7 separate regions of the Homo sapiens genome follow, and all the other regions are linked to region 3. The links come from fine-mapping of genetic effects on gene expression. A gene starts in region 3. Each other region holds a variant in brackets. All regions are shown on one strand. Distances are between the middles of the regions.

Region 1 (4,066 bases), 110 kb before region 3:
AGGGGCATCTTTTGTTTCAATATTTGGTGTTAGTCCCAGGTTTCTAACACAAGAGCCTCTAAGACCTTTGGGATCTCCACCATAGTACGAATGCATTTGGTGATGTTACTGGATGACTGGGTGACTGAAAGCTCCTAGACAGCTTCAGGAGGAGGGCTGGTTGCCAGAGGCTTGGAACTGTGAGTCTCACCCACTGAGCTCCAGAAGAAATGGTGGCCGAAGATTGACTTAATCACCAATGGTCAATGATTTCAACAATCATGCCTGCATAACGAAGCCTTCATCAACACCCTCAACAACAGGGTTTGGAGAATGCCTGGGTTGTTGAACACAAGGGGCATATGAGGAGGGTAACATGCACAACAGAGAGCATGGAAGTTCTGTGCCCTTCCCCCCACATACCTTGCTCTGTGCATTTTTTTTTTTTTTTTTTTTTTTTTTTTTTTTGAGACAGGGTCTGGCTCTGTCTCCCAGGCTAGAGTGCTGTGGCACAATCGTGGCTCACTGCCACCTATGCCTCCCTAGCTCAAGCCATCCTCTCAGCCTTCTGAGTAGCTAGAACTACACGCACATGTCACTGCACCTGGCTAACGTTTAGAAAAATTTTTTTGCAGAGATGGGATTTCACCACGTTACCCAGGCTGGTCTTAATCTCCTGAGCTTAAGTGATGCTCCCGCCTCAGTCTCCCAAACTGCTGAGATTACAGGCATGAGCCACTGTGCCCAACATGTACATCTCTTTCACTGGCTGTTTCTAACATATATCCTTTACAGTGAACCAGTAATAGAACGTAAATTGGTGAGACACAGTGGCTCATGCCCATAATCCTAGCACTTTGGGAGGTTGAGGTGGGAGAATTATGTGAGCCCAGAAATTTGAGACCAGCCTGGGCAACATAACAAGACCCCATCTCTACAAAAAATAAAAGAACATAGCCAGATGTGGTGGAGCAGGCCTGTAGTCTCAGCTATTTGGGAGGGTGAGGCGGGAGGATCACTTAAGCCCAGGAGCTCGAGGCTACAGTGAGCTTTGATCACACCACTGCATTGCAGCCTGGCAACAGAGTGAGACCCTGTATCTGAGAATAAAAGAAAATAACTTGTTTTTTGAGTTCCGCAAGCTGTCCTAGCAAATGATTCCACCCACGAAGGGGGTTATGAGACCCTGTTTCCTAACTGGTTTGTCAAAAGTACATGTTAACAACCCAGGACTTGCAATTGGCATGTGGAGTGAGGGTAGACTCCTGGGACTGAGCCCCCATCCTGCGGGGTCTGCACTAACTCCGGGGAGTGTCAGGATGGAATTGTGGGATACCCAGTTGGTATCCAGATTGTCCGAAAATCGGTGTAGAAACTCCACATGCACATTTGGTTAGAGGTGTTTGACCATAACTACTATTCAAGAAAAAGATCTACTCATTAGAAATAAAAATCATAAAATTATACATTCTACAAAAACAAATCAACCTTATCTACCTCCCAATCCTACCAAACTACAGAATGTTAGAACAGAAGGTCTGACCATGGACTCAAGAGCTGACGTTAGGAATGTCAGCACCATCCTGCTCTCCAAGGACTCCTCATCTTCAACAGACTCCTCATCTTCAAAGGAAAGGGTGGAAACTGCAACTTGTGCCATGATCCCTGCGTGAGAAAAGTAGTAAGAAAGTGAGTGATAGAAATCCAGTGTCCTAAATTCACATCCAGAACTGTGAGAGTTTTTCACTAGCTGGCTAATTCACAGGTTTCTTGCATCAGAGGAAAAATACGACTCAGAAACTAGGAATTCCATTTGCCCAAAACTCTCATCAGATTAGAGAATCCATCCGCTAACTTTCTTATCTAGTATTATTTCCATGAGTTAGATCAATATCATTCCCAAAATAAATGCACATGGCACCCAGAATCTGTGCATTTCTCCCAAGTAAAAGAGGAGGCGGCCAGGAACGGTGGCTCATGCCTATAATCCCAGCACTTCAGAAGGCCAAAGTGGGCGGATCACCTGAGGTCAGGAGTTCAAGACCAGCCTGGCCAACATGGCGATACCCCATCTCTACTAAAAATAAAAAATTAGCCAGGTGTGGTGGCACATGCCTGTAGCCCCAGCTACTTGGGAGGCTGAGGCAGGAGAATCGCTTGAACCCGGGGGGGCTGAGGTTGCAGTGAGCTGAGATCGCACCACTACACTCCAGCCTGGGCAACAGAGTGAGACTCGGTCTCAAAAAAACAAAAACAAAAAAGAGGAGACAAGGCGCTGTACAACCCAGTGCCCAGTGATGGGCTACCACAAGTCAACACAGGAAAGAGGTGCCAAGCTCCCTTTCTCCCCTGCACAACCCGACACAAAAAAGAGTTGGTGCAGTGGAATGAG[A/G]CTGGATGGAGAGAAGTTCTTCTTTTTTGTTTTTTTGAGACCAAATCTCACTCTGTCACACAGGCTGGGGTGCAGTGTCTTTGTCTTGGCTCACTGCGACCTCTGCCTCCCGGGTTCAACCAGTTCCCTGCCTCAGGCTTCCAAGTAGCTGGGATTAGAGGTGCCTGCCACTGCACCCGGCTAATTTTTTTTTATTATTATTTTTAGTAGAGACTGGGTTTCACTATGTTGGACAGGCTGGTCTTGAACTCCTGACCTTGTGATCCACCTGCCTCGGCCTCCCAAAATGCTGTGATTACAAGCATGAGCCGCCGCGCCCAGCCAGGAAGTTCCTCTTCTTACTGAGAAAATAGATCACAGGGCATCAAGTAACATGTAAAAGTCTTTATAATAAGGAATATGATTTTTGGAAAAACTTTCCTAATATTTTGGTATTAGCAAAAACCCTCAGATTAATTTCAAACAGTATAAAAATACAGTATATAAACAAAATATTAACTGTCAGTAATGCTATAGAGAAATTGGAGGCTTTTTGGAATGTAAAATGGTACAGCCCACTGTGGGAAATGGTTTGGCAGCTCCTTAAAAATACTAAGCATAGAATTATTTGATCCACCAACACCCTTTAAGCGTATATACCCAAAAGAACTGAGAGCAGGGACTCAAACAGGTATTTGTACACCCGTTTAACAGCAGCATTATTCACAGTGGCCAACAGGTAGAACCAACCCTAATGCCCATCAGGGTTGATAAAGAATGGATGAATGGATGATGGATGAATGGTGAATGAAGAAAATGTAATATATACATATACAGAGTATTATTCAGCCATACAAAGAAAAATATTTGGCCAGGTTCAATGGCTTACACCTGTAATCCCAGCACTTTTCGAGGCTAAGGCGGGCAGGTCGCTGGAGCCCAGAATTTTGAGACCAGGCTGGATAACATGGCACATTTGGTTAGAAGTGTTTGATCATAACTACTATTCAAGAAAAAGATATACTCATTAGAAATAAAAATCATAAAATTATATGTTCTACAAAAACAAATCAATTTTATCTACCGCCCAGTCCTACCCGACCATAGAATGTTAGAACAGAAGGTCTCACCGTGGACTCAAGAGCTGACATGAAGAATGTCACCACCATCCTGCTCTCCAAGGACTCCTCATCTTCAATGGACTCCTCATCTTCAACGGACTCCTCATCTACAACGGGCAGGGTGGAAACTGCAACTTGTGCCATGATCCCTGCGCAAGAAAAGTAGTAAGAAATTGAGTGGTAGAAATCCAGTGTCCTAAACTCACATCCAGAGCTGTGAGAGTTTTTCACAGGCTGGCTAATTCAGAGTTTTCTTGCATCAGAGGAAAAGTAAGACTCGGAAACTTGGTATTCGATTTGCCCAAAACTCTCATTAGATAGAGAATCCATCCGCTAACTTTCTATCTAGTATTATTTCCATAAAGTTAGATCAATATCACTCCCAAAATAAATCCACGTGGCAACCAGAATCAGTGCATTTCTCCCAAGTACAAGAGGAGGTGGCCGAGCGTGGTGGTTCACGCCTGTAATCCCAGCACTTTTGGAGGCCGAGGAGGGTGCATCAGGAGGTCAGGAGATGGAGCCCATCCAGGCCAATATGGTGAAACCCCGGTGTCTACTAAAAATACAAAAAATAGCTGGGTGTGGTGGCGTG
Region 2 (4,066 bases), 120 kb before region 3:
TACCCAAATTGGTGAAATCAACTTTTTAAACTTTGGAAATTAATCAAAGATTTACAGCAATGCAGAAAGCATTTATTCATGAAAAATGGATGAATCTCAGCAGAAACAGGAACTTTGTGGTGCTTTTCCATGCCCTCTCTCCAGCTTTCAGGCAGCCTTGCAAACCGACAGCCCACAATCATGGTGAAAACCAGTAGCCTGACAGCCACTGTAGCAGGCAGAACAGGGTTAATTGGAAAACTGAATTTAAAAACATGATCTAACTATGCATCTACAAGAGACATAGTTTAGACTAAAGAACACAAATAGGTGGAAAGTAAAAGGATAAAAAGATATACTATGTAGGCCAGGTGCAGTGGCTCACACCTGTAATCCCAGCACTTTGGCAGGCAGAGGTGGGCAGATCACCTGAGGTCAGGAGAATGAGACCAGTCTGGCCAACATGGTGAAACCTCGTCTCTACTAAAAATACAAAAATTAGCCAGGCGTGGTGGCACATGCCTGTAATTCCAGCTACTTGGGAAGCTGAGGCAGGAGAATCACCTTAACCTGGGAAGTGGAGGTTGCAGTGAGCTGAGACTGCACCACTACACTCCAGCCTAGGCAACAGAGACTCCATCTCAAAAAATAATAATAAAATAAAAATAAAAATAAAAAATTAGACGAGCATAGTGGCACACTTTTGTAGTCCCAGCTACTCAGGAGGCTGAGGTAGGAGGATTACCTGAGCCTGGGAAGCTCAACACTGCAGTGAGCCATGATTATGCCACTGCACTGTAACCTGGGCAACAGAGTGAGATCCTGTCCCCCCCAAAAAAAGTGTAAATCCAGCATAAAGATATAACAATTATAAACATATATGCACCCTACAAAAGAATCCCAAAATACATAAATCAAAAAAGTTTCAAATGGATCGAACCTACAAATGTTGAGAAGCCGAATAATAATTTATTAGAATAAATGTAAGAGAATATTTTTATAATCTTTTGAGGCCTTAAGCAACAAAGAAAAAAACATCTGGGTACAGTGGCACATGACCATAGTCCCAGCTGCTTGAAAGACTGAGGCAGGAAGCTTGCCTGAGCCCAGGAGTTCAAGACCAGCCTGGGCAATATAGTGAGACTCCATCTCAAAAAAAAAAAAAAAAAAAAAAAAGATAGATGAATTTAGTGATAAAAAACTTAAGAATTTTTCTATACGTGGCAAAAGCATGATAAATGAAGTAAAACGATAAACAACTAGGAGAAATATTTATAATAAACATGAAAAGGGGTATTATCTCTAACTTATAAAGAACTCCTACAATGTGATTAGAAAGGGAAAATTAACCTAAAAGACAGGACAAGGAAAATAAATAGGCAGTGTACAAAGAGAAAATGCAAATGGCTAAAACCTCACTATAGTCCTGGAAATACAACAATGAGATACCATCTTTCATCCATCAAATTGGGCTTAAAAAATAAAAAAGATCTATAATATCCAATACTGATAAACTGGTAACGAGCATTCATACACGCCTGGTAGGAATCTGCTTTGCTATACCTTTTTTTAAAAAAAATGTAGTATGGCAGTTTCTATTAAAATTTATAGTGTAAACAGATTTTAAATCAGCAATCCCAGTTTGGGAAATCTATCCTGCATAAATAAAAGCACTACTACAAAAGTAACATATTTATCTATTACAGAAAATTATGATGGATATCAATTTTTATTTTTCCCTGTAACCTAAATCATTTTTTTCTGGCTTATTCCCTAGACTGCTTCTGCCATTTTCCCTATAAATCTCTCATTCTCAGCAAAAGAACAGAAAACATAAAGAGAGTTTTCTTCTCCAATATTGTTTTATAAAAATCTCAAACATACAAAACATTAAAAGAATTGTTTAATAAACACTCTTACAATCAGTAACCAGCTCACCTAGATTCTGTAATTAACATTTTGTTATATTTGTTATCACGTATCTGTTCATCTACCCATGCCTTAAAGAGGTTGTTTTTAATTCCTTTAT[C/T]TGTTTCCATGGCAAGGCAATGTTTAAACATAAATAGTGAACAAAGCCAGCCGGAAAATAAAGTTTTTACCTTATTAATCACTCCAGTCTCTCTTTACCATTCATACTTCAGATTGTTTCCCCAAATACACAGCTTAAAGCCAAATCCAATTCTTTTATCTGTAACAACTGAATTTATTACTCTATTTAATCTTCACTTTTACTGAAAGGTTTCTCTTTTTTTTCTCTTGAGACAGTCTTGCTCTGTCACCCAGGCTAAACTGCAGGTGCGTGATCACAGCTCACTGCATTCTCAACCTCCTGAGCTCAACTGATCCTTTGACCTCAGCACCCTGAATAGCTGGGACTACAGGCACATGCAACCATGCTCGGCTAATTTTTCTATTTTTTTTTTTTTGTAGAAATAGGGTTTTGCCACATTGCTGGGCTGGTCTTGAACTCACGGGCTCAAGCCATCAGCCCACCTCAGCCTCTCAAAGTGCTAGGATTACAGGCACGAGCCATTGTGCCTGGCCAGAAGGTTTGATGCTTTTGAGGAATATGCTCAATGCAAGAAAGCACTGCAAATTATCAGCTTAAGAATGGTTCTTGTGTATGGGTATCTCTCTCCTCCTTACTTACATCGTTATGTAAATATTGCCTATCTCACAAGTTATGTTTTCATAAAATGGCCTCTTATACCCTATTTTGTTTTATTATCTACAATTTCGATGGGTTTGCCATAAAGACGTTATTATTTATGGCATCTAATATGCTATGATTCTCAGATTCTAGTCTTGGCACCCTTCTAATAGAGGAGAACAAGAACAGAAATGAAAAATACCTATAATTGGCCAGGCGCGGTGGCTCATGCCTGTAATCCCAGCACTTTGGGAGGCCGAGGCGGGCGGATCACGAGGTCAGAAGATCGAGACCATCCTGGCTAACACGGTGAAACCCTGTCTACTAAAAATACAAAAAATAAGCCAGGCATGGTGGTGGGCACCTGTGGTCCCAGCTACTCGGGAGGCTGAGGCAGGGGAATGGCGTGAACTTGGGAGGCGGAGCTTGCAGTGAGCCAAGATCACGCCACTGCACTCCATCCAGCCTGGGCAACAGAGCGAGACTCCGTCTCAAAAAAAAAAAAAAAAAAAAAAAAACCTAAAATTAAAAAGTGGGAGGCCATCTGCAAATCTTGAAGTGAGAGGATTTCCATCTTCATCATGGCAAAATGCAAACAGCCCAGCAGAGAAACCCTGTAAGAAAAAGTTCAAAATGTCTTAATGTGAAAAATATCAACGCTGATTACAGGCCTGTGATCAAAAGAGAGCACTGATACCAACTGGGACATAAAAGCACCACGCCAATGCTTCTATAGGAACTTCTCACACATTGGAATCGAACAATTAAGTGTTCCATATTTATAAATTTTAAATTCTAATTACTTGAGGTAAATATTTCTAATGAGAAATTTTCTAAAATACAGTATTTTCAATTTATATACAGTATAAATACTATAAACATCTATTACTGTGCTATAATTATATTTCCAGGCACCATTAAGAGTTTTAAAACCATGAAGCGCACCAGCTGTTGTGTTTTTAATTCCTGTCTTCTGTGTGTGTGTGTGTGTGTGTGTGTGTGTGTGTTTGTGTACTTTATGAAATGGTTCTGAAAGTCTGTCTGCGTTTTAAAGTTATTTTGGCCTTCTTATATATATAGCAGAATCCTCCCAAAGTGCTGGGATTACAGGGGAGAGCCACCACTCCCGGCCTTTCTTCCTTTTTTGAGAATGTTTCAGGTATCACTTCTGAACAAGAGCTGTAAAGATAAAAGCAGCACACTGAGATGCATGGCCAAGACTGACATTTGCTTACAATAGATAAACTTAATTCAAAATGTCTGTGAAGACAAGCATTTGTATGTGCTCAAATATACATGTAAAAAATTATTTAGCTGATCATTTCCTTTCCTTTAATTTGAGAAAGTGGTAAGTCATCACTACTTTCTCCCTATAAGGATTTTCACATGGTTATCAGAAGCGGCAACAGAAGGGCCGGGCACAGTGGCTCATGCCTG
Region 3 (4,066 bases):
ATGCTGAGGAAATTCTGAGCATAAGAATGCATAGGAGAGGATAAAAACCTAAAATCTGTATCTAATAAACTTAGCTAGACTTTCTGATTGTTTTAAGTATGGGAAGGGATGAAGGAAGCTACCTCGCAGGTTACTAGCTGGGCCACTGGTTAGTAATTACTGTCCATCAATTCATGAGACAGGAGGAGGAACTGGTGCTTTAGTTTTGTGTAGCAAGCAGGAAGAGGACAAGTCTACTTAACGCGAATCAAAATGAGAGCAAGCAATTATACAGAATTTCTCTCCCTCGACAAAATAAGCTTCTCATATTACAGAGATCTTAACTTTGAAATGCTTTTCAAAATAGGGAGTCACTTGGGCTGGGAGGGGACTTCAACTAAGTCCTCATTTTACAGAGGAGGCACTGAGGGGCAAGGCTGTTTCAATACCCTGTCCAGAGTGCGCACTGTTCAGGCAAAACCAGGACTAAAAACCAGCTCTGCCGGATCCGTTCTACCTACTGCTCCTTCTGCTTCAGCTGCCCTCCCAACCTACTAATAGGGATTTACATCCCCAAATACGTTCATGTAAACACTTAGCATTCTTCAACTAAACACAAAATCAGATATGTAAGCTAAAAATCTAAAGCCAAAAACATGTATTTAATTTCCATAAAATTTCTACTTTTCTTTGGAAAAACTTTCCCATTGTGTCAGTTTCTATTCACTGTAACATTCTCTATATTTCAGGTCCTAAGACCAAAAAAAAAAAATCCTTTTTAAACTTAGGCCTTGAAGAAACGACAAACCCTCTAGGCTTAATATTGCACCATATGAAACCACTGACACAGACAAGGCCTGTTCTGCCGAAACCAGGCCAGTTAAGTCAGGGCTCAATTGCTTCTGTATCATTGTCAGAAGCCATCTCGACCTCAAGCAAAAGTAAAACTGGAGAAAGAGGCCAGCCTAACTTGCTCCTCGGCTGGTCCCCAGCAACGCCCCTGGAAACTCTGCTCCCCATCGCTAGGACCGCCCCTCCGACGCCGGGAGAACACGGAAGGAGCAGCAAGGCGCTGCCCGGCATCTGCCGCCAACTTCCCCGTCGACGGTCTGATTCAAATGCTCCCTACCTGTTTTCCATGTAGACTTGGAGAGAAACTGCGCCAGGAAAACTGTTATCAACTGTTACAGGGACGGAGAACTCCGAAATAACCAAATTACTACTTATATTCACTGTCCCATGTCTAGCGCCTTTTGAAACAATAACCAAATCCTGTAAAGTTTTGTCTGCGATGAGCAGTCACTAGGAAAAACCTGTATTCGTGATGAATTCGCCTCCCCCCCCAGAAAAGGACCGACTTTCCAAGAGCCGAAGCCCCTGCCCGGAGCGGCGGGCTCGCGGGCCCTGGGTGCGACCCCACCCAGCCTCCCCGGGATTCAGGCAGCCGGGCCCCGCGCCCGCGCTCACCCAGGTGCTCCCCGCGGCCTGCGCGCCCGCGCGCTTCTCCGGCATGGCTCCCGCCTCGGGCTCCGACGCCGCCTTCTCCTCCAGCTCCGGCGGCGGCTCCACGCTCATGCCGCGGCCATGCCCGCGCCAGCCCGGGGCGCTCCGGGACGACGGCGACGCCGCGGAGGCGGCGGCGGTGCCCGCGCCCTCATGGGCTCTGCGGCCCGCGGCGGCCTGCGGGTCAGGCGGCGGCGCCAGCGGCGGCGCCGAGGGCTGAGGAGGCGGCGGAGGCTGAAGCTGCGGATCAGGCTAGCAGAAGACCGCAGCTCCAGGAACCGACCACTTATCAAACCGCACCGACCCCGACTCTCGCAGTTACCGGCGGCGTCAGGGGCGGGCTGCACGGTTAAGAGACTGTGCCCCGCCCCGCCTCCCCACAGGCCGGCGCCGGGCAGGAGGCCCCGCCCCGCACCTCAGCTCCCGCCTCGAGAACGAGTCCCGCGCCTGAGTAGCCTCCAGCGACGCCACGCCCACTTCAGAGACCCCTCCTTTACCTCGCGACTGGCCCCTTGGCATCAGGACTTCGCGGCGCGCGGGAAGTACGTCATTTCGAGAGCCCGTACGACTGATTTCTTTTTCCGGAGAATCTGGACTGAGGCTAGCAAGCGGGGAGGGGCAAACTCGTGGGGGTTTGGTAGTGATTGCAGTTCAGTTTTGGTCTTGGTTTGCGCCAACCCGCCAACCTCTCAAGTTTTTCTATGGTTCTCTAAGAAGAAAATAATATACTAGCAATGTTTCCCAAACGTACTTGAACACAACACTTTTTATTCTTGACACATGATTAATATCTTGTAGAATGTGTAGGACGCAGTTGGAAAAGCCTGGCTTATGTTTATTTATTTTGAAAGATATGCACCTAATACTGAAATATAAAAAAGCCTACAGGCCTGGAGCGGTGGCCCACACCTATAATCCCAGCACTTTGGGAGGCCGAGGCGGCTGGTTCACCTGAGGTCAGGAGTTAGAGACCAGCCTGGCCAACGCGGTGAAACCCTGTCTCTACTAAAAAACAAAAACAAAAACAAAAAACACCAAAAAAATTAGCCGGGCTTGGTGGCGCACGCCTGTAATCCAAGCTACTCGGGAGGCTGAGGCAGGAGAATAGCTTGAACCTGGGAGCCGGAGGTTGCAGTGAGCCGAGATAGCGTCACTGCACTCCATCCTGGGCGACAGAGTGAGGCTCTGTCTCACAAAAAAAAAAAAAAAATCTTTTTACAAACATCAATAGAAAAAAGAATAAAATTATTTCTATTAACAGGATTAGTAATTTTAATTGAATTAAAGTCATTTCATTTAAGAATTTTTTCAGGTTGGGCGTGGTGGCTCACGCCTGTAATCCCAGGACTTTGGCAGGCAGAGGTGGGCGGATCGCCTGAGGTCAAGAGTTCCAGACCAGCCTGGCCAACATGGTGAAACCCCGTCTCTACTAAAAATACAGAAGTTAGCCGGGCATGGTGGCGGATGCCTGTAATCCCAGCTACTTGGGAGGCTGAGGGAAGAGAATCGCTTGAACCCAGGAGGCGGAGGTTGCAGTGAGCCGAGATGGTGCACTGCACTCCACCCTGGGTGACAAGAGTGAGACTTCGTCTCCAAAAAAAAAAAAAAAAAAAGCCTCTTTTTCGCTTCCCACCCACTACCCCCAAACACACACACACACACTTTGCAGAAGTCTTTACTTTTATTTATTTATTTATTTATTTGAGACAGAGTCTTGCTCTGTCACCCAGGCTACAGTCACCCAGCCTAGATCAGTGGCGTGATCTAGGTTCACTGCAACCTCTACCTCCCGCATTCAAGCGACTCTCCTGCCTGAGCCTGCCGAGTAGCTGGGATTACAGGTGCGCGTCACCATGCCCGGCTAATTTTTGTATTTTTAGTAGAGACGGGGTTTCACCATGTTGGCTGGGCTGGTCTTGAACTACTGACTTCAAGTGATCCGCCCCCCTCGGCTCACCGAGCCGGCCTGGTCTTTTTTCTTTTTTTTTTTTTTTTTTTGAGACGAAATTTCGCTTTTGTCGCCCAGCCTAGATCAGTGGCTCGATCTCGGCTCACTGCAACCTGTGCCTCCTGGGTTCAAGCAATTCTCCTGCCTCAGACTCTCGAGTAGCTGGGATTACAGGTGCATGCCACGACCTGGCTATCTTCTGTATGTTTAGTAGAGACAAGTTCACCATGTTGGCCAGGCTGTTCTCGAATTCCTGATCTCAGGTGATCCACCCGCCTCGACCTCCCATAGTGCTGGGATTACAGGCGTGAGCGACTACACCCAGCCTGATTTGTCTACTTTTCTGAATGATTGTTTTAACAAATAGTTTTCAAAACACAGAGGGAATATATGTATTATGTTATGCTGTTTGAGTATTATGTTTATGCCACTTATGAGCTTGGGTATCAGTTTCTGATTCCTGTATCCATGAAACAGAAAAGTTTGTAAACTGTTTTTTTGTTTTCTTTTGAGACAGTCTTGCTCTGTTGCCCAGTCTGGAGTACAGTGGCGCGATCTCAGCTCACTGCAACCTCTGCCTCTCCGGTTCAAACGATTGTGGTGCCTCAGCCTCCCGAGTAGCTGGGACTACAGGCA
Region 4 (4,066 bases), 26 kb before region 3:
TGCAATAGAGAGAAAAGAGAGCAGAGATTCTTTTTCTGTCTCTGGAATACTTTAACTGTATGTGAAGCCTAGAACTGTCAGAGGCGTGTGAACCAGAGCGACTCCATCTTGAATAGGAGCTGGGTAAATGAGACTGAAACCTACTGGGCTGTATTCCCAGACAGTTAAGGAATTCTAACTCAAAGGATGAAGATAGGGAGCACAAGATACAGGTCATAAAGACCTTGCTGATAAAGCAGGTTACAGTAAAGAAGCTGGCTAAAACCCACCAAAAACAAGACAGAAATGAGAGTGATCTCTGGTCATCGTCACTGCTATACTCCCACCAGTGCCATGACAGTTTACAAATGTCATGGCAACGTCAGGAAGTTACCCTATAGGTCTAAAAGGGGGAGGCATGAATAATCCACCCCTTGTTTAGCATATAATCAAGAAACAGCCATAAAAATGGGCACCAGCAGCCCTCAGGGCTGCTCTGTCTATGGAGTAGCCATTCTTTTGTTCCTCTACTTTCCTAATAAACTTGCTTTCACTTTAGGGACTTGCCCTGAATTCTTTCTTGTTCGAGGTCTATCCAGGAATCCTCTCTTGGAGTCTGGATTGGGACCCCTTTCCTGTAACTGAACTATGGCAGCCATCTTGAGACCATGAGAGCCAGACAAATCAACACACTGAAGATGGAAAGAACCTGGTCCTTGACGCAAAATCAAGGACCAATCCTGGAACTGTCTTTCCATCAGATTTCTTGTTAAATGAGGTAATAAATCCCGATCGTCAACAAGAAAAAGGGGGAGGGGTGACAGGACCGCAACAGTCTCCTCAAAGATGATATACAGATGGCAAATATGCCTATAAAAAGATGTTCATTGCTGGGCGCAGTGGCTCACGCCTGTAATCCCAGGACTTTGGGAGGCCCAGGTCTTGATCACCTGAGGTCAGGAGTTCAAGACCAGCCTGGCCAACACGGTGAAACCCCATCTCTACTAAAAATACAAAAAAATTTGCTGGTTGTGGTGGCGGACGCCTGTAATCCCAGCTACTTGGGAGGCTGAGGCAGGAGAAAATGCTTGAAATCGGAAGGCGGAGGTTGCAGTGAGCCAAGATCGCGCCACTGCACTCCAGCCTGGGTGACAGAGTGAGACTCCGTTTCAAAAACAACAACAAAAAAATTAGCCTGTGTTTGAGGGTCCTCTTTTCTATTGCAGTTGACCCCACATGAAAGAGCGAAACTCCGTCTCAAAAAAAAAAAAGGAAAAGAAAAGATGTTCATTATGTGTCACTGTCATTTTAAAATGCAAATTAAAACAACAAGATTGTTAGAAGGATGGATCTGAAATGCATATTGCTAAATGAAAGAAGCAAGTCTGAAAGGCTACAAAGTGTAAGATACCATTTAAAGGGCATTCCGGAAAAAGCAAAACTATAGATAGTACCAGATCAGTGGTAGCTGGAGTTGGAGGGTAGGGTTAAATGGATGAAGCACAGGACACTTTCAGGTAGTAAAATTGTTCTGTATGATATTTTAATGATAGGTAAACGGCACCACGCATTTTTCAAAACCAGCAGAACTTCAGAGAACAAGAGTGAGCCTCAGTACATGTTAACTTTTAGAAAACATTTCAGAGGTGGAGAATCCCAGGATGGAACGCAGAATGTAGCAAAAGAATCTAATTGCAGTACAAACACAGGAAACAACCTCACTAAAGGGGGTATGGGGAAAGGCAGTGATCCAAGTAACTCTGGGAAATAGTGGAGTCTTTTTTTTTTTTTCATTTGGAAGCTGGAATTTTATCATAGGCAACAAATATTATCAGTTGTTTTTTTTTTTT[C/TC]CTTTAAGACTGGAGGCAAAAAAAGTTGCGCATAAATGAAACTGGCTCAATTTCCCCATAGAAATTATATGTACAGGTCTTTGAATAAACATAGAAACTGACCCTTCCAGTTTTAAAACCTAAAACTTATATTTGTCTCCAATGAGTTCTTTCCTCAGGCAACGGACTGAAACTCACCAAATCACCATTTGACAATGAGACCCCAGACACCTCTTTCCCCTCATAGGTCAGGACTGCTTCCTTATCCTTTTCCTAATTGCTGTTTTCCTCACACATAGTTACATTCCTTTTTTCGGTACATAAACTCCCCAGTTTTAGTTGGTCGAGGAGGCAGATTCGAAACTGATCTCCCATTCTCTTCAGTAGGCAACACCTAAATAAAAAGGCAAAATTTTTCTCTGGCCGGGCGCAGTGGCTCTGGGTGTAATCCCAGAACTTTGGGAGGCCTAGACGGGCGGATCACTTGAGATCATGAGTTTGAGACCAGCCTGGCCAACATGGGGAAACCTCCCATCTCTACTAAAAATACAAAATTAGCCAGGCCACCGTGGTGGCACACGCCTGTAATCCCAGCTACTCGGGAGGCTGAGGCAGGAGAATCGCATGAACCCAGGAGGCAGAGGTTGTAGTGAGCCGAGATCGCACCATTGCACTCCAGCCTGGGCAACAAAAGCGAAACTCCATCTCAAAAAAAAAAAAAAAGGCTTTTTCCCCGGCAATACTCACCTCAGTGATTGGCTTTCTGTGTGGCGAGAAACAAGACCTAGATCGACCACCTGGCATTTCTGTAACTTAAACACTGTTATGCTATAGTTGAAAGTTGTACCCCATGGAAATAAAGATTAACAATTCTGGAACCATGTATGCTGTGACTGACCAATTAAATAAACTGGATGGCAGATGGTGGAAGCCAGGTTTCTCACTGCTGGAGTGGAAGGTTACAAATAAACAAGAGAAGGAAGCAAGAATGATCCATGTAATCATGGATTAGAGTTGAGCACATCATTATGAACTCATTTTTAACTTCATATAGATACAGATGGTCACAAATGGAAATACTTACAAATGTGTGTATTATATACACCTGTTTCCTCACACTCTATCAGCTGAAAGAGCCTGAAAGAAACTACACCCTAGAAACTCAACGGCAATAAGCATATCTAGTGTGACACATCTTGGTTTCAAATGCCATTCTCAAATAAAAGAAACCAGGGCTCCTTGGAGAAACAGCTAATTCTGGGACTAGAGTGGGAAATATGTAAGAGGAGCGTGGAGTATCTTGTAATCCCAGAATATAAGCATGGCAAGCCAGGTCTCACTAACTCAGGCCCCCAAAACAACTGTTTCTGTACAGACTGAGTAGTTAAGTTAAATGTTAAAAGCTGAAAGAGCCGGCCGGGCACGATGGCTCACATCTGTAATCCTAGCCACTCTGGGAGGCCAAGGTGGGCGGATCACCTGAAGTCAGGAGTTCGAAACCAGCCTGGCCAAAATGGTGAAACCCCATCTCTACTAAAAATACAAAAATATTAGCTGGGTGTGGTGGCAGGTGCCTGTAATCCCAGCTACTTTGGAGGCTGAGGCAGGAAAATCGCTTGAACGCAGGAGGCGGAGGTTGCAGTGAGCCAAGACTGCCCCACTGCACTCCAGCCTCAGTGACAGAGCAGAGCAAGACTCCATCTCGGAGGGCGCGACGGGGGGGAGGGGAAGAGCCAGTACCCTTATGCAAAGGCTGGAATTTAACAAAAGCCCACCAAGAGTTTTGCCTAGGCCTTTCCTGGGCCTTAAAGCATGACAAAATAATGAAGGAATTCTTAAGGCCCATTTAGGATTAAACAAGTTTTACTGTGGGTCTAAAGAAACTTCCCAGGCCTCCACAAACAAGTTTATTGGGGTGTGAAGGAACTCCCAAACCTCCGTGATTTAGCAGGAGACAAGATAAGGGTAATCACTCCAGCACCTGGACCCATTTAGATTAAGTAAATGTACTGAGGCTCCAGAGGAAGGTCTTCAAGACTCAGACCTTAGTTATGGACCAAAAGTTGTTAATCATTAAGATGAATGCACACTTACAGGTAGACATATAACTTAGAAGGTATATAAGCTACGGAAACTTTGTAATATTGAGTTGGCCTGGTGATAATTTCCAGGTATTCTCCCTGTAACCCATTGCAGAAATAAAAACTTTCTTCCTCCCCAGTTCATCTGCATCTCATTATTGGGCCTTAAGAAGTAGC
Region 5 (4,066 bases), 51 kb before region 3:
CAAAGCTTTCATTTTTAACATCTCTGTATGAAAAAAAATCTCAAGCTTAGCCAGGCACAGTGGCATACACCTGTAATCCTAGCTACTGAGGAAGCTGAAGTGGGAAGATTGCCTTGAGCCCGGAAGATCAAGTCTGCAGTGAGCTATGATTGCACCACTGCACTCTAGCCTGGGCAACAGAGCAAGACCTTGTATCTATCTATCTATCTAAATAAATAAATAAAAATAACTCAAGGAAAATATCCCCTTTAAGTATTCTTGAGAAGGACTACAGTAAACATAAAATAAAATGGCATTTGCCTGAAAAAAATAGGAAACATTTTAAAAGAAAAAAATGACACTTGCTTATCACTTTTAAAACAATAACTATAAAGTTTTAAGAAATGAACTGTCTTCCAGTACAACAAAGCTTAGAAATATCTACATGTAATAAACATACACAGAGCTGTGTTTCTCCACTTCCACAGATATAACAGAAAAAACATGAAATTAAATTTACAGCATTCCTAGAAAGCCAAGAATCATAAGGCGCTTCTGGATGATACAGAACAGATGAGAAAAGACTGACAACAAAAAAAGAGCTGAAGAAAAGTAGCACTTGAAGATGAAAGAGAAGACCTTGAAGAAGTTCATTTTCCAGAACCCAGAAAGAAACCTCCCAAATCAGAGGAGTAGGAAAAAATAGCCATAAATGAAAGGGTACTAAAAGGTCACAAAGTAAGCTCCCTGGTGTCTTCCTCTCAAAGCTGCTGACCTACAGATATGGCACCAGGATAACAATCACAAGCACAGTTCTCTGAAAACTGTGGGACTTCTAAGTGGGATACTTGCAGGATTGAACGGAATGAGATTCAAAAAGGACGGTGCCCCAGATCTCTTATGGCTGCCAAAAGTGCACAAAGTCCTATGACCACATAATCCTATAGAGTACTTCAGTACTCTAGAATATCCACACTTTCACAGAGCAAGAGGGCCTATAACCAGTCCCTGCATTAAATTTTAGGGAATAAGGCTTTCCACCTGGGCTGAAGAACTACACTCTTAGTAACCACAGGTATCTAGACTACAGGTGGAAAACTGGCTACAGCCTGACTGTAAACTTGAAACAGCCTTTGCAAAATTATGACTGAGACAGTGAAAGATCTAACTTAACCGACTCCATCTTACTTCTAACCTCCAAGCTGTCCTTGTTCATTCCTGGGCATAGCATGAACTTTGGGAGAAACTTAGTTTATAGTTTTTTAAAACAAAGACAGTAATAGCCCTTTCCCAAAGCAGACCTCCTTCTTGCCTGGAGACTAGACTGCCTTTGTAGGACCAACATTAGCCACAAGATTAGAAATTATGGTTTACGAATCAGGTAGCTAGAGGCTACAGGATTCTGACCCTCCCCAAACTGCTCCTAATATCACTGCTTGAGATATTTTGCAGACCCTGCACTTAATGGATCAGCTGGCACCACCCAGATCGATAAACTGGCTCATCTGATCTTGTGGCCCCAACTCAGGAACTGACTCAACTCAAGAAGACAGCTTCAACGCCCCATGATTTCATCCATGACCAATTCTGTAGTGTGGCTCATTTTCCTCAAGACTGCCTTAGTCTAAGCCTTTTTTATGTCTCCATATATTTTATAATCAGCTCTTCAATAGCCACAAAATAACTTGCGAAGAATTTTGATTATGATTGCATTGACCACAGAATAATTGGGAAAGAACAGACATACTGTCTTTTTGTTGTTGTTTGATTCAAAGTCTCACTCTGTCACCCAGGCTCAGGTGCAGTGGCACGATCTCGGCTCACCACAACCTCCACCTCCCGGGTTCAAGCGATTCTCCTGCCTCAACCTCCCGAGTAGCTGGGATTACAGGAGTGCGTCACCATGCCTGGTTAATTTAGTAGATATGGGGTTTCGCCGAGGTTGATCTTGAACAAGATAGGGAAACAGATGTCATTACACAAATACCACAGTAAAAACTGTTGCAGACAAGCATTTATGGATGCTAAAATTAGTAGGACAACAGAAAAGGAACAAGATATCTGGACAGTCTCAAAGTATTTCTCCACAACATACTCACTTGAGACCAGGAGTTCAAGACCAGCCTCGCTGAAACCCGATATTTATTATTT[A/T]AAAAAAAAAAAAAAGCCAGTTGTGGTGGCACACGCCTGTAGTCCCAGCTACTCAGGAGGTCGGGGCAGGAGAATCACTTGAACCCAGGAGGCAGAGGTTGCAGTGAGCTGAGATCTAGCCACTGCACCCCAGCCTGGGCAACAGAGTGAGACTCTCAATCAAAGAATAAAAAAAAAAAAAAAAAAAAAAAGCAGAAAACAATATGTCCATTCTTCCACAATCAATCTATAGTCAATGCAATCATAATAAAAATTCTTAGCAGATTATTTTGTGGGTATTGAAGAGCTGATTATAAAATATATATATACAGACATAAAAAAGGCTTAGACCAAGGCAATCTTGAGGAAAATGAACCACACTAAGGAATTTATACAAGATATTATGGCTGGGCGCAGTGGCTCACACCTGCAATCCCAGCACTTTGGGAAACTGAGGCAGGCAGATAACCTGAGGTCAGGAGTTCGAGACCAGCCTGGCCAACATGGTGAAACCCAGTATCTACTAAAAATACAAAAATTAGCCAGGCATGGTGGTGCATGCCTGTTATTCCAGCTACTCAGGAGGCTAAAGCAGGAGAATCACTTGAACCCAGAAGGCGGAGGTTGCAGTGAGCCGAGATCGCACCACTGCACTCCAGCCTGGGTGATAGAGTGAGACTCCATTGCTCCCCCCTCCGCCAAAAAAAAACATATTACTATAGAAGTTAACACAGGATGGTGTTGGCACAAGGAAATATAGCTCAACAGAATACTAAAAAATTTAGAAACAAACCCATATATGGACGGTTGTCTCATTTATGACAAAGGTGACACAGTACAGTGGGGAAAGAAGAATTTTTTCAATAAATGATGCTGGTTCAACTATATATTCTTCTGCAACCAAAGTGAATACTGACCCCCTACCAAACACAATGATCTTTCTGGATGATAGGACTACATGAGAACAATAAACCAATTAAGGTTTGTGGTAGAAAAAGTTGTCTTAAACAGGATTTTTTAAAAACACTAACCATAAGCAAAAATAAATTCAACTACATAAAAACTTAAATTCAATTAAAATTAGTGTCATCCAAAGGCATTAAGAGAACAGAAAGGCCCTGACATTGAAGAATTCAGGTGAAGATGCCACCATTCTTGAACTCTGAAAGCCAAACTAGAATCTTCAGAGCAGCCTCAGTCTTAAAATTCAAGCTTCTTTTTCCTACTTTTTATTTCAGTGATATTTAGGACACTCTATATTTCATAAGAGTTATGATCTAACTGGCTCTATAAGCCCAAGTATAAAAATCCTTACCACCTAGCAAGAGACCCACAGAACTAGTCAGTAGTAAGACTGAGGTCACATATTGGAAAAAATATACTAGACCAGGGTTATACACAGGGACCATCCAGCAATAAAGATGTTGCTGGCAAGTAACCATAGTGGTGGGTGACCACTAGCGAAAAGGGCTGAAGAGACCTCAGAAGGTTATCCGGGTTATCTGGGTAGACCTATGTCTTTTTCCATGCCCGAGGGTCACGACGTCACTATGCAGGGCACACGTGGCTTGGTTTAAAGGTCACCTTAATCGTAGCAAATGTAATAAATATTTTTTAGATCCTGAAATTTATAATAAAAATACTTTCCTGCCTACCCTGAAAAAAAAAAAAAAAGAGAGAGAGAGAACAGAAAGGCAATCCCAGGCTGGGCATTCTGGCTCACATCTGTAATCCCAGCACTTTGGGAAGTCAAGGCAGGCAGATCACTTGAGGTCAGGAGTTCAAGATCAGCCTGCCCAACATGGTGAAACCCCATCTCTACTAAAAATACAAAAATTAGCCAGGCTTGGTGGCACGCGCCTGTATTCCAAACTACTTGGGAGGCTGAGGCAGGGGAACTGCTTGAACCCGGGAGGCAGACATTGCAGTGAACCGATATCGCACCACTGCACACTCC
Region 6 (4,066 bases), 20 kb after region 3:
GCTTGAACCAGGGAGGCAGAGGTTGCAGTGAGCCAAGATCAGGCCACAGCACTCCAGCCTGGGCAACAGAGCAAGACTCCGTCTCGGGGTGGAAAAAAAAAAGAAATGGCTATGTTATAGTTTTGACAGTAAATAATTTGTAAGTCATTACTCTCATATGGTGAAAACATCTACTCTCCTATAATTGAAAAAAAACTTTTTTTTTTTTTTTTGAGACAGAGACTCTCTCTGTTGCCCAAGCTGGAGTGCAGTGGTGCAATCTTGGCTCACTACAGCCTCTGCCTCCCAGATTCAAGCAATTCTCCTGCCTCAGCCTCCCGAGTAACTGGGATTACAGATGTGCACCACCACGCCTGGCTAATTTTTGTATTTTTAGTAGAGACGAGGTTTCATTATGTTGGCCAGGCTGGTCTCAAACTCCTGACCTAAGGAGATCCTCCCACCTCGGCCTCCCAAAGCGCTGGGATTACAGACGTGAGCCACTGCGCCCAGCCTGAAAAAAAAACTTTAAGGAAGGTTTTTTAAGGTTCCTAGGGCTGGTTATTGCTGGAAATCATAAACAAAGTGACCATTTAAGTATAAGAATCATCTGTATATCTAGCCTAGCCAACGTGGTGAAACATCGTCTCTACTAAAAATACAAAAATTAGCTGGGCGTGGGGCATGGTGGCACACACCTGTAATCCTAGCTACTTGGGAGGCTGAGGCAGGAGAATGGCTTGAACCCGGGAGGTGGAGGTTGCAGTGACCAAGATCGCGCCATTGCACCCCAGCCTGGGCAAACTCTGTCTCAAAAAAAAAAAAAAAAAAAAAGAAACATCTGAATTTGACTTTTAAAATTATGACTATATATCATAATTCAATCAATAAATATGTTAAATGATTTTTTTCTATGAAGGATAAAGTAATATTTTCCCTAAAACCAATCATAAGAAGAAAAGTACTTCCTTTAGTGCAAAGTTATAACATAGGCCAGTGGTTCTCAAAGTGTGGCATAGGGAACCCTGGAGAATCCCCAAATCTTTTTTTAGAAGAACGGTCTATGAGGTCAAAAGTATTCTCAAAACAATACTGGGGCCGAGCGCAGTGGCTCACACCTGTAATCCCAGTACTTTGGGAGGCCGAGGCAGGCGGATCACTGGAGGTCAGGATCCCTGACCAACTTGGTGAAGCCCTGTCTCTACTAAAAATACAAAAATTAGCCAGGTGTGGTGGCAAACACCTATAATCCCAGCTATTTGGGAGGCTGAGGCAGGAGAATTGCTTGAACCTGGGAGGTGGAAGTTGCAGTGAGCTGAGATCACGTGAGTGCGCTCCAGCCTGGGCAAGAGTGAATCTCCATCTCAAAAAAAAAAAAAAAAAAAGATACTGGGAATGACTTGTCTAATTTACTTTCATTGTCTCATGAGTGTAGACAATGAGTAGAGCTTTGCTGAGCCTGTAAGATACATAGAATTACATATATACAATTGAATCCTGTGTCTTCTGTTAAGGCAGAAAAAATTCTTTGCAAAATTGTAAAACAATGTCATTCTTCTCACTATAACTTTTTTCTTTTGGAAATTCTTTTGTGAAGTTATTTTTTGCATAACTGTTATTTATGTTAACATTTTTATTGTATTCATGTAAACATTATTTTATATATTTTAATTTTAAGTTAGCCTACAGTAAAATTGACTTTTCTTGTGTACAGTTCTATCAGTTTATTATTATTATTATTATTATTTTGAAACAGGGTCTCACTGTCACCCAGGCTGAAGTACACTGGCATGATCACAGCTCACTGCAGCCTCCCCCTCCTGGGTTCCAGCGATCCTCCCACCTCAGGCTCCGAAGTAGCTGCGATTACAAGCATGCACCATCACACCGGGCTAATTTTTCTATTTTTTGTAGAGATGGGGTTTTGCCATGTTGCCCACGCTGGTCTTAAACTCCTTGGCTCAAGTGATCCTCCAGCCTCGGCCTCCCAAAGTCCTGGGATTACAGGCATAAGCCACCATGACTGGCCAGTTCCTGAAGTTTTAAAAAACACAGATTCATATAGCCACTGCTTCAATGCAGATACAAAAGAGCTCTATCACCCTAAGAAACTCCCTCGTGCTGCTCCCTTAAGGC[C/T]ACATTCTCCCACTAACTCCTGGCAACCACCGATTTGTTGCCTAACATTTATAGTTGCATCTTTTTGAGGTTGTCATAAATGAAATAATACAATATGTAAACCTTTTGAGACAGGCTTCTTTCACTCAGAATGTTACCTTTGAGATCAATCAAGTTGCTGGGTCCCTTTTTTTGCCGGGTAGTCTTCCATTCACTGTATGGATGTACCAAAGATTACTTACTCATTTACCAGTGGGAGAAGTTTTCAGTGTTTCCAGTTTGGGGGTATTACAAACAAAGCTTTATGAAACACCGCTATACAAGTTTTCATGTGACCATAACTTTTCTTTTTTTTAATTTTATGGTTTTTTTTTGTTTGTTTTTTTTTTTTTGAGACAGAGTCTAGCTCTGTCGCCCAGGCTGGAGTGCAGTGGCGCAATCTCGGCTCACTGCAAGCTCTGCCTCCTGGGTTCATACCATTCTCCTGCCTCAGCCTCCCGAGTAGCTGGGACTACAGGCGCCCACCACCACACCCGGCTAATTTTTTGTATTTTTAGTAGGGAGGGGGTTTCACCGTGTTCGCCAGGATGGTCTCGATCTCCTGACCTTGTGATCCACCTGCCTCGGCCTCCCAAAGTGCTGGGATTACAGGCATGAGCCTCCGCACCCGGCCGTAACTTTTCATTTGCTAAGGTAAATACCTAGGAGTGGGACTGGTGGGTCATATAGTAAGTATATGTTTAACTTTATAAAAGGCTGCCAAGTGTTCTTCCAGAGTGACTGCATCATTCTCCATTCCCACCAGAAATGTGTGCAAGTTCTAGTTACTCCACATTCTCCACATCACTTGGTCAGGTCAGTTTTTCTATTTTAGCTGATGGTGTGGTGTCTCACTATGGTTTTTTTGGTTTGTTTTTTGGGAGGCAAGGTCTCACTCTGTCACCCAGGCAGGGGTGCAGTGGTGCTATCATAGCTCACTACAACTTCAATCTCCAGGGCTCAAGTAATCCTCTCACTTCAGCCTCCCAAGTAGCTGGGACTACAGCGGTATGCCACCTATTTTTTATTTTTAGTAGAGACATGCCCAGCTATTTTTGATTTTTAGTAGAGACAGGGTCTCACTATGTTGGCCAGGCTGGTCTGGAACTCCTGAGCTCAAGCAATCCTCCTGCCTCAGCTTCCCAAAATGCTGGCATTACAGGCATGAGCCACTGTCCCCAGCCTCACTATGGTTTTAATTTGCACTTCCTGATAGCTAATGATGTTGAAAATATTTTCTTGTGCTTATTTTCCATCGATATAACTTCTTTGATGAAGTATCTGCTCAAGTCTTTTACCCATTTTTTACTTAAACTCTATTTTCCTTCTGTTGAGTTTTGAGAGGTCTTTATATACTCTGAATACTAGTCTTTGTCAGATAAGTGATTTCTCAACATTTTCTCCAAGTCTGTGGTGTGTATTTTTATTCTCTTCACAGTGTATTTTGCAGAGCATGGGTTTTAAATTTTATGAATCCAATTTGTCATGTTTTTTAGTGGATCAGGCATTTGACATCATATCTAAGAACTTTTTGTCTAACTTCAGTTCATGAAAATTTTCTTCTGTTTTCTTTTTTAAATATTATGCTTTGAATTTTAACATTTACGTGTAAAATCAATTTTTAGTTAGTCTGTGTATAAGGTGAAATTTAGGTCAAGGTTCATTTTTTTGCAGGATGACTAATTATCCCAACACTGGTTTTGGAAAGACTGTCCTTTCTCCTTTGAATTACTTTTGCACCTCTGTCAAAAATCAATTGGTCATCACCTCATACCCATCAGAATGACTACTGTAAAACAAAACAAAAAACAGAAAATAATGAGTGCTGGTGTCAGAGGCATTTGAGCCAGAGCAACTCCATCTTGAATAGGAGCTGGGTAAAATAAGGCTGAGACCTGCTGGGCTGCATTCCCAGGAGGTTAGGCATTCTGAG
Region 7 (4,066 bases), 75 kb after region 3:
GCAGCCAAACCTACCAATACGTTCATCTGGGACTTCCAGCCTCCATAAATATGAAAATATATTTCCGTTGTCAAAATCACCCAGCCTGGGGTACTTTGTTATGGAACCCCTAGCAAGCCAAGACAAATTGTGAATATAGAAAGTAAACCAAAAATCAACTATCTCATGATCGATGAAAGAAAGCAACATTTTTTTTTTTCCATTCCATTTCAGGAAACTGAAGCATTTACTAGTGATTTCTGCCAGCTTCACACTCACGGGGAAAGGAAAGGTCAGAAGACCTCTTGGGGTAGGAGCTGATGACCAGACTTGGTCCTCCTGTGTCTATGCAAGTGAGACTTCTGGCTAAAGCCACGCCCACACTCCCTGCAGACATACGGCTTCTCCCCAGAATGGGTCCGCTGATGTCGGATGAGGGCAGACTTAAAGCCAAAGCCGCGCCCACATTCATCGCAAATGCAGGGCTTCTCTCCTGAGTGTGTCCTTTGGTCAGAGATAAGGTGTGACTTCTGGCCAAGTCCTTGTCCACACACCCTGTCTACGTAAAGCTCCTCCTCTGAGTGTGTCCTCTGGTGTCGGGTGAGGAGCGACTTAAAGCCAAATGCACGCCCACACTTGGGGCACAGATAAGGCTTCTCCCCTGTGTGTGTCCTCTGGTGTCTGATGAGGGTGACCTTCTGACCAAAGCCACGCCCACAATCAGGGCACAGGTAGGGCTTCTCCCCTGTGTGTGTCCTCTGGTGTCCAATGAGGGTGACCTTCTGGCTAAAACCCCGCCCACACTGGGGGCACAGGTAAGGCTTCTCCCCTGTGTGTGTCCTCTGGTGCCTGATGAGAGTGACCTTTTGGCGAAAGCTGTGCCCACACTCAGCACAGACATAAGGCTTCTCTCCTGAGTGTGTGACCTGGTGACTAAGGAGGAGTGACTGCTGCCTGAAGCTACGCCCACACTCAAGGCACAGGAAGGGCCTCTCCCCTGTGTGTGAGCTCTGGTGCTGGAGGAGTGATGCCTTCTGGCAAAAGCCTCTCCCACACTCAGGACACACGAAGGGCTTCTCCTCCAAGTGCGTCCTCTGGTGTAGAAGGAGGGCTATCTTCTGGCGAAAGCCTCGCCCACACTCCTGACATACAAAGGGCCTCTCCCCGGAGTGAATCCTCTTGTGATTAGTGAGAGAGGATGTATACCTGAAGTGTCGCCCACATTCCCTGCACACATACGGCTTCTCCCCCGAGTGCTTCCTCTGGTGTATGGAGAGGGAGGCCTTCTGGCTAAACCGACGCCCACACTCAGGACACAGGTATGGCTTCTCCCCGGTGTGTGTCCTCTGGTGCTTGATAAGGTCTGATCTCTGGCAAAAGCCTCTCCCGCATTCAGGGCACACATGATGCTTCTGGTGGCTGAACAGGCTTGACTTTTTGCTAAGTCCCAGTCTATAGTTTCCACGTATGACTGCTCCAGATTCTGAAGTGTCTGCTCCCTTCAACATTGTGTCTGACCCCCCAAGACTCATCCTTTGGGCCAGGCGAAGGTCTGTTCCTCCTTCTCTGTTCCCTTCTACCCATTCTACTGGGTCACCTTGATGTGGGCTGAAGAATGTCCTAGAAATTCTGCTTGGCCTCTTTCTTAATGAGCTGTCGGGGCCTTCTGTCTCTCCACTTTCTCCTTTTTCACTAGAGCATCTTGGAGCTTCTAGTTGGAAGTCACCTCCTGCAGATGAGCTTGGGAAGATCTGTGTGGGATGGCCACTTAGCGCATATTGTCTGAGGAGCTGCGAGCTAGAAAAGGCCACCAGGTGGGGAAAACTTGGCTGGAATTCTGTTCTAGGCTCTGCTAGAGAGAAAGTCTTGGTCAGAATCACCACAGGTGACCATGGATTGTAATACCTGCCCAGCAGTTTTCTTCAGATGTTCACAACAAAGACTTATCTTCCAACCCACAAGGGCACATTACATGCTCTATTGCAGCACAGAAAACCCACACTACAAACTAGTCCTATCAGCCAAACTAAAAGGTTCAAAAAAGCATCACAGGCAGCTTCAGCTCTATAAATTGCTGCAAGTAGAGTTACACATTTATCTTCCTTTCTTGGGCGCCGCTCCCTTGCTTTTGCTCCAGCTCAAGCCTATTAAACCTTGCCTGAGAAACATTTGTTCGGCCTGCTGTTTATGCAAGAGCCAAGAACTTGGTGTCTGAGCTGCAGTTAAGAAACAGACTGATTATGATCTTGAAGGTGCTATAAATAAGATCTTAGCATCTGAAGGGGAGCCATGCTTTGGGCTTCCTTGACTGTGGTGACTCAAGTAAGGGGCACCCACGAATCAGATAAGCTGTAGCAAGAGATACTGGCTCCTGTGTGGAATAGGCTTTAGGCCAGGGAGCTTCCATATCAGCCTGATGTGAGTTGTCTCCTGAACTGTATGGACACCCTTAAGTCCTCTTGAAGAAGAGGAATCCCTGATGCTGCCCTCC[G/T]GGCAAATGAAGGTGCTGTCCTCTAGCCTCTGGGAAGACTGCAGCCAAGTATATTCCCCGAATAGCATTGCACAACACTACGTACACTGTTTTGCTCAATAATCCAGGATTTTTAAAAAAATCTGGTGAATTAAGGAGAAGCTCAGCGTTTGAAAGTTAATAATAGATGACTTCTCATTAGCATAAAGATGTTTCAGGGATTATACATATTTCGGCTTAAGCATATTCTTATCCATGCACAAAAACTGTTAAAACTATACAAATTGACTTTTTCAAAAAATTTTGTTTCTAGGTTTAAATAGGCTGCCAATTGGAGATAACACTAATTCCCATGATGGTATAAATTAAAGGCTCTGGAAATTGGCAGTGCTTTCAGCTTCCGTAAGTTGATACCGTAACTCCTAGGTAATTATTGACTAAGTTCTTTTTTTTTTTTTTTTTTTTGAGACAGAGTCTCGCTCTGTTGCCCAGGCTGGAGTGCAGTGGCGTGATCTTGGCTGACTGCAACCTCTGGTTCAAGCAATTCTCCTGTCTCAGCCTCCTGAGCAGCTGGGATTACAGGCGTGCACCACCATGCCCGGCTAAGTTTTGTATTTTTAGTAGAGATCGGGTTTCACCATGTTGGCCAGGCTGGTCTTGAACTCCTGACCTTAGGTGAGAGACGGGGTTTCACCATGTTGGCCAGGCTGGTCTCGAACTCCTGACCTTAGGTGATCCGCCTGCCTCGGCCTCCCAAAGTGCTGGGGTTATAGGCATGAGCCACTGCGCTCGGCAGGACTAAGTTCTTATGAGTCATTATGGGACAGCCCTCAATAGAGAAGTCTGCTTTCATTATCTCTGAAATTGTTTGCTGTAGTGAATAAGCAAAGCATTTGGTAAGAGAAAAATAAGGCATTTTCTTATTCATGGCTAGTTTATCTTTTTTATCTTACTTTTGTTTAAAGACTCCTGCTTTTTAACTCAGATTAGAAATTGAGTCTCCTTGAACAAATTTTTTTTTTTTTTTTTAAAGGAGTCTCGCACTGTCGCCTAGGCTGGAGTACAGTGGCACTATCTCAGCCCACTGCAACCTCCACCTCCTGGGTTCAAGCAATTCTCCCACCTCAGCCTCCTGAGTAGCTGGGATTACAGGCGCACCTACTACGCCTGGCTAATTTTTTGTATTTTTAGTAGTGACAGGGTCTCACCATGTTGGCCAGGCTGGTCTCAAACTCCTGACCTCAAGTGATTCGCCTGCCTTGGCCTCCCAAAGTGCTGGGATTACAGGCGTGAGCCACCGCGCCCAGCCCCTGGAACAAATTTTTAAGAGCATTGATCAGAAATGTACCTGGCAAGTAGCAACCCATAGCAAGAAACTGAATCAGGGTTTCAAGTGCCCTATCAGAACAGAAGTGAACAATTTAATGGAATTAAACTACTTAACAGAAGACCCTTGGTTCAAGGCAGACGATTATAAATACAATACTGATTTATATGTTATTCTATTTGTTAACTATTTTTAATCACAAAATACGTATTTCTTATTTTTGACCATACTATTCCTAAGAAAAACTCTTTGTATCATTGATTAGAGTCAGTAAGATCATATCTGCAAGA

Direction of the effects. Positions count from the first base shown, and alleles are read on the strand shown. Sizes are in standard deviations (SD) of each study's normalised expression. Not every link is listed here.
For the expression in monocytes after LPS of the gene that starts at base 1,805 in region 3, allele T in region 5 goes with a higher level than allele A (moderate effect, 0.74 SD a copy in Quach 2016).

What was found.
Region 1: its variant is fine-mapped to the expression of SLC71A2 in whole blood (GTEx, PIP above 0.99).
Region 2: its variant is fine-mapped to the expression of SLC71A2 in macrophages (Nedelec 2016, PIP 0.91).
Region 4: its variant is fine-mapped to the expression of SLC71A2 in whole blood (INTERVAL, PIP above 0.99). The same link has a PIP of 0.9 or more in monocytes.
Region 5: its variant is fine-mapped to the expression of SLC71A2 in monocytes after LPS (Quach 2016, PIP 0.95). The same link has a PIP of 0.9 or more in monocytes after Pam3CSK4.
Region 6: its variant is fine-mapped to the expression of SLC71A2 in whole blood (TOPMed, PIP above 0.99). The same link has a PIP of 0.9 or more in blood mononuclear cells and monocytes.
Region 7: its variant is fine-mapped to the expression of SLC71A2 in subcutaneous fat (GTEx, PIP 0.96).

What each region holds. Positions count from the first base shown.
Region 1 is chr9:94,485,254-94,489,319 of GRCh38, reverse strand. It overlaps LOC107987100 (a long non-coding RNA gene), which reads left to right. Exons shown (of 3, transcript XR_001746844.2): 2 at 1,500-1,668; 3 at 3,442-3,878. Among named protein-coding and RNA genes, the nearest start is that of PCAT7, 68 kb to the left of the region's middle. RefSeq lists an enhancer at 1,073-1,242. The variant A/G (reference allele first, on the strand shown) is at 2,372.
Region 2 is chr9:94,497,233-94,501,298 of GRCh38, reverse strand. The region is part of intron 1 of LOC107987100 (a long non-coding RNA gene); the gene reads left to right. It also overlaps the pseudogene LOC100421692. Among named protein-coding and RNA genes, the nearest start is that of PCAT7, 56 kb to the left of the region's middle. The variant C/T (reference allele first, on the strand shown) is at 2,009.
Region 3 is chr9:94,372,308-94,376,373 of GRCh38, reverse strand. SLC71A2 (solute carrier family 71 member 2) reads right to left here and starts at 1,805. Exons shown (of 12, transcript NM_032558.3): 1 at 1,447-1,805. The coding sequence starts at 1,554. RefSeq lists enhancers at 1,036-1,535, 1,536-2,037 and a silencer at 1,587-1,986.
Region 4 is chr9:94,398,273-94,402,338 of GRCh38, reverse strand. The region is part of intron 1 of SLC71A2 (solute carrier family 71 member 2); the gene reads right to left. Among named protein-coding and RNA genes, the nearest start is that of SLC71A2, 26 kb to the right of the region's middle. The variant C/TC (reference allele first, on the strand shown) is at 1,830.
Region 5 is chr9:94,422,983-94,427,048 of GRCh38, reverse strand. All of the region lies in intron 2 of SLC71A2 (solute carrier family 71 member 2), which reads right to left. Among named protein-coding and RNA genes, the nearest start is that of SLC71A2, 50 kb to the right of the region's middle. The variant A/T (reference allele first, on the strand shown) is at 2,131.
Region 6 is chr9:94,352,472-94,356,537 of GRCh38, reverse strand. All of the region lies in intron 2 of LOC100132077 (a long non-coding RNA gene), which reads right to left. Among named protein-coding and RNA genes, the nearest start is that of SLC71A2, 20 kb to the left of the region's middle. The variant C/T (reference allele first, on the strand shown) is at 2,116.
Region 7 is chr9:94,297,577-94,301,642 of GRCh38, reverse strand. ZNF169 (zinc finger protein 169) reads right to left here. Exons shown (of 5, transcript NM_194320.4): 5 at 1-1,828. The coding sequence ends at 273. Among named protein-coding and RNA genes, the nearest start is that of NUTM2F, 29 kb to the left of the region's middle. The variant G/T (reference allele first, on the strand shown) is at 2,471.